2 separate regions of the Homo sapiens genome follow, and region 2 is linked to region 1. A link means that fine-mapping ties the variant in region 1 to the expression of a gene that starts in the linked region. Tissue or cell type: whole blood. Region 1 holds a variant in brackets; the other region holds the start of a gene. All regions are shown on one strand. Distances are from middle to middle.

Region 1 (2,841 bases):
TGCCAAAAGTATTTTTTAATGATGTGGGAACTGGCATCCACAAGCTTAACCCACAAAACCCCCATTATGTGGGTTAATTTAACTGTTTACTTTTTTAAATCTGTTCTGTAACTGAAGACATAGCTTTTAATGTCCCTTTTACTACTTTATTGATCTGAAAAAATAATAAAAACCATAAGCAGATATAGTAATAATGCCCAAAAAAATTAGGTCACCCAGATTTTTTCTAGCTTTTGAATTAGGTTATAATTATTAATATCAAGATTTAAGACATGTTTCTAATAGCTGTTACTGCCGCTATTTAAAATAAAGAGAAGAATGCCAAGTTTGGAGTATACTGTGTGTCTAGATGGTGAAGTATGGTGGATGTGACTTTACTAAGTTCCTGGGGGAAGAAGGTGGTGATGGAGAATTTGAGGTCATGCCATAGTAAACATATGTAAGACTCTAGTGTACATCAGCATAACCACATCTCCAATAAAACCTCAGTGGAATTTAGAAAGCTTAAATACCCAAAAGAATACATAGCATATTTGTTGATGCTCATAAACAACATGATGAATAAGGAAAAGATGATGTGAGTAAAGGAGCTAAATGAGTAATTCTGTAATTTATCAACTAATTACATTTATTCTTTTTTGAAGCAGAATTTCTTTTTTAATCTAGTATGTTTTTTAGCTGATCAAAGCAGCATGTTGAGCATTGCTTGGTCTTTCTTAAGTATGGGAGGTTCTATCAATCTAGTAAAACCTTGGCCTTTTAGGCTTAGTAACTAAACAGGGGAAAATTTGTTTAATTGGGAGTAAATTCTGAATATTAATTCACATTAACCAAACAATAGAGACTAACGTATGAAGTCAGAATGTCAATTCGTTAATTTTTGTGAGAAACAAATCTGCCAATGGGACCCTATGTTGTACTTTTATCTTCTGGCCAACATATTCCACCCCGTAGGTACACTATATGGAAGCCGAGTTACAGTCACTGGTTCCTTAGTATTATAGACAGCCTCTCATTTATATGTTTATAAGGAATATAAACTTTTTAGGTATGGTTACGGGTAACTTAATATCTGCTCCCTAACCTCAAAACACACAGAACACACAAAAGCAGTAAGAAAAACAAAACATACACGCATGCTCCTACCCACACAACTTCACTTAATATTAACTAAAACTAAGAAGGCAGGTATGATACCTGGACAACCAAGTAGAGGTAAAGACTCCTTAAGCAGCTGAGGTCTTGCAGAAGCCACACGGAAAGAGGGGAAGAGTTAAAATATGGAATGTTGAGAATGTTTGTGATGGCACAAATTTAGG[A/T]TATGGTATAAAATTTCACTCATAATGTGGTTTGGTTTAGAAAAGCAGAGGACCCGTATTTGGATAAAGCAGCCTGCCTCTGTAGGATCAGATAATGTGACAGTATTTGGGTTTTAAAACCTGTAAAAATGTCCTGTGCCTCTATCTTTCCTGCACCCCTCGACTTTCTGGAATAGCTACTCTAGCAAAATCTAGCAAAGTAATAAGTAATTTTTTTTGTTTGTTTTAAGATGGAGTTTCACTCTCTTGCCCAGGCTGGAGTGCAGTGGCACAATCTCGGCTCACTGTAACCTCCGCCTCCCAGGTTCAAGCCTCCCAAGTAGGTGGGATTACAGGCACCTGCCACCACGCCCGGCTTATTTTTGTATTTTTAATAGCGACGGGGTTTCACCATGTTGGCCAGACTGGTCTCCTGACCTCAGGTGATCTGCCTGCCTCGGCCTCCCAAAGTGCTGGGATTACAGGCGTGAGCCACAGCCCCCAGCCCCAGTAATAAGTAATTTAAAAGTAGCCTCACATTCATACAAAGATAATAAGAGGTGGGGAAAAGCATCAAAGCTTAGTAACAGGTTAGCTACACGCACACACAACACAAAAACATTAACACAAATCGGATTTTAAGAAGTACAAAAGGAGTCATCCGACACTCTGATAATCAGCATCTTGCAGTTAGTATCTTTCCTAAAGGCTTGGGATTCTCTGCCTTGTTGATAATCTTATATATATACATACAAGACAGACAGATAGAGACAAAGGTAAGCTTTTGGTAGAATTAAGTTTTTTATCTTTCAGGATCTATGGTTTGCCTTATTAGTCTTCCAAAAAAGTACTTTTATGGGTTTTTCAGCTTGTGTACTTTGAACTTTCTTGACTTGGATTCTGATTATGAGAAAAAATAATCTCTACAAGACATATGAAGGAACATTATCTTCTAACTCCTTTCAGTTTTATTAATTCCAAAGGCAAGGAATAATTCACTTTGGGGGGCCTTTACTGTTAATCTTTTTGGAGAATCATTATCAGAAATTAGCTGGACGTGGTGGCTCAGGCCTCTAATCCCAGCACTTTGGAAGGCCTAGGTGGGAGGATTACTTGAGCCCAGGAGTTCGAGACCAGCCTGGGCAACATAGCAAGATCTTGTCTCTGCTAAAACTTTTTTTAAAGTTTTTTAATTAGCCATGCGTGGTAGTGCGCACCCGTAGTCCCAGCCAAGGCAGGATTGCTATGATCTCACCACTGCACTTGAGCCTGGGCGACAGAGTGAGACCCCGTCTCAAAATAAAAATAAAAATAATCGAACATGGGAACTGGAAATATAATACTATACTCGTTTTGGACTCCATATCCCAAAGTTATAAAGTTTTATCACATACTTCCTATAGTTTAAGAATCTCTTGGCCAGGCGCGGTGGCTCACGCCTGTAATCCCAGCATTTTGGGAGGCCTAGGCGGGCAGATCACGAGGTCAGGAGATAGAGACCATTCTGGCTAACACGGTGAAACCCCGTCTCTACTAAAAATAC
Region 2 (2,661 bases), 73 kb after region 1:
ATAAGCAGTAGCTTCATGGCCCCATAGGAGGGAGGCCTTCCTTCCCCAGGGCGCAGAGCAAGCTCAAGGACAGACAAACTCAGAGGGATGTCTTCTCTCTCACTGTTGTACTTACCCATGTCAGAGAGAGACATCATTTCTGAGTCTCAGAGGGGCTGATGACATAAAGGTGAGGCCTAAATGGAGGCAGGTGACTAACAATGTCTTCAGTTCATTCCCCGCATCCCCAACCACATGGGGAGTGCCGCTTTTGCCCGCCTGCGACAGTGGTTCTCAACATTTGCTGTGCCCCGAAATAAAAACAGATTGTGGGCCCCGCCCCCAGAGCTGTCGATCCAGTGGGTCGGAGGTGGGGCCTGAGCACTTGCATTTCCAGCAAGTTCCAGGGTGATGCTCACGTTGCTGGCCTAGGGACCACACTGAGAACCACTGTCCTAGAAATACGGTCAACCCACCCTTTCCTCCCTCACCTTCTTCACTCTCTTCCTCCCCTTCTCCGCCTGTTTCTCCTTTTCCGCTTCCTCCAATTCCTCTCTGGTCCTCTTCTCACCTTCCAATCAGCTGGCTCTGCCACTGACTGGATGCCTGACTCGGGCAAGTCACCTCCCGTCTCTAGGCCCGAGGAGAGGCAGTCGGCTAGGCCGAGATGCCCCTGCCCGGCTCCCCCCTCGCCAGGGCGCTCGGCCTGGGCTCCCCCGTATCCCAGATCCTCTGTGCAGCTGTGGCCGAGATGCCCCTGCCCGGCTCCCCCCTCGCCAGGGCGCTCGGCCTGGGCTCCCCCGTATCCCAGATCCTCTGTGCAGCTGTGGCCGAGATGCCCCTGCCCGGCTCCCCCCTCGCCAGGGCGCTCGGCCTGGGCTCCCCCGTATCCCAGATCCTCTGTGCAGCTGTGGCCGAGATGCCCCTGCCCGGCTCCCCCCTCGCCAGGGCGCTCGGCCTGGGCTCCCCCGTATCCCAGATCCTCTGTGCAGCTGTGCTGGGAGGGAGCTGCTGCGTGAATGAGATCATCCTCCAGCTGCCCTCCAGCCCCGACTCTGGGATTCTGACCTCTCCTTCCTTCCACGTCTGAGCTTTTCTCTCTCCAGTTAGACACGGTATCTGGAGTCTTTCTAGGGCGCGAGGAGGGGAGGATACCCTGGAACGCGGGGTAGGAGGCTGAGGCGAGAGCCCCGAGCAGCGGCGCCCGGGCCCGAGCGGGAGGCCTCCAGCAGGGGGCGCGCCGGGGCCGCCCAGGGGCGGGGTCCGGGGTCGGCGGGAGGTGACCTGCGCCCCAGGGGCGTGGATTCCGCCCGGGAACTCGCGGCCGCACTTAAGGAGCTCGGGCCAGCGCGAGGGGGAGCAGGGAGGAAGCCCGGCTGCTGCGGACCTCCTCGGACCCGGACCCAGCCCCAGCCCGGCCCCAGCCAGCCCCGACGGCGCCATGCGGGGTCCGAGCGGGGCTCTGTGGCTGCTCCTGGCTCTGCGCACCGGTGAGGCCCCGCTGTGAGAGCCAAAGGCGGGCGGGGGTCCCGGGGCGCCGCGGCCCGGCTGAGCAGGTCCCGGGGCTGGAAATGTGCCTGAGCCTGCGGCTCCGGGGCAGTGAGACGGGGGAGGCAGGGGCTCGGGGTCGAGTGAGGACGGCGGAGGGAACTAGCACTGAAGCGCAGACGGGGAAGTCTGGAAGGCTTCTTGGAGGAGGCGGCCTCGAACACCCGAGGCTTCCGACGCTCCAAGGAGAAGCGCGGGCTGAGGCGTGGTGGGGAGGCCTCGGGGTGTGGAGAGGAGCTCCCGGAGGGCGGCCCCTCCCGACGGGCGCAGGAACTCAGGAAGACTTTGGGGGCTCGGAGCAGCTCTTTCTCCCGAGCCCCCGCGGGAGAAGATTCAGAGGGACTGACCGGCAGGCGCGGGAGTCCGCCCGGGGGTTTCTGGCACATGCAGGGATGGAGGTGGAGACGGAGGCCGGGTCCCCTCGCGTCGGCGCCCCGGGGAGTCAGGGCCCGGGATGGTGGGACGGGAGGCGGGACCTCGGGGAGCGGCTCGCGGGGATCGCGGGCGGCGACCGCCGAGGGGATGGAGTTCGTGGCACCGCTGTGGCCGCAGGCGACGCACTCATCAATGCAAACGATGAAGCCACCGCCACCCCCGCCCCGTCTGAACTTTGCAGTTTCCCGCCTGGGTGGTGGGGGGCTTGGAGCGCTGCGGAGGGGAGGGCAGTTCGACTTCCCAGGCCTCCGCCAGGAGTGGGGAGGGGAGGGCTGTGGCGGAAGCTTCAGTCTCGGCCCTTGGGCTGGTGGGGCTGCCACGGGAGGGTGACCTGGTTTCGGGCGGAGTCATGCGTTTCCCTCCCTCCTGCACAGGCCTCTGGCAGTGCTGGCTGGGGCAGGGTGAATGGCAGAGGAGCTCAGGCCTGAAAGTCATCGGCCCCAAGGGGCTCCAGCACCCCTTCCTCTGGGCCCCTAGCCTGGGAGCTCTCGGGGACTCTGACCCGGTCAGATCCTGAGGCATAAGCAGAAGTCCACTGAGGATGTGGGTGTCTCAGGCTCTCTACAAGGGGGTTTACTTTCAACACAGAAGGTGGGGTTTTTATCTGCTCTCTCAGAAGATGAAGCAGGCTCAGAGAGGCTTGAACCTACCCTGATGGGTCCTCAGCCTCCCCTCTGTGCCTGCCGTCTTCCCTTGGCA

The links. PIP is the estimated chance that this variant, and not a neighbour inherited with it, causes the effect.
Region 2: MELTF starts here. The variant in region 1 is fine-mapped to the expression of MELTF in whole blood (TOPMed, PIP above 0.99).

Annotation. Positions count from the first base shown.
Region 1 is chr3:197,101,563-197,104,403 of GRCh38, reverse strand. All of the region lies in intron 14 of DLG1 (discs large MAGUK scaffold protein 1), which reads left to right. Among named protein-coding and RNA genes, the nearest start is that of MELTF, 73 kb to the right of the region's middle. The variant A/T (reference allele first, on the strand shown) is at 1,320.
Region 2 is chr3:197,028,462-197,031,122 of GRCh38, reverse strand. MELTF (melanotransferrin) reads left to right here and starts at 1,306. Exons shown (of 16, transcript NM_005929.6): 1 at 1,306-1,469. The coding sequence starts at 1,421. RefSeq lists enhancers at 277-913, 914-1,550 and silencers at 1,084-1,573, 1,624-1,673, 1,864-2,043.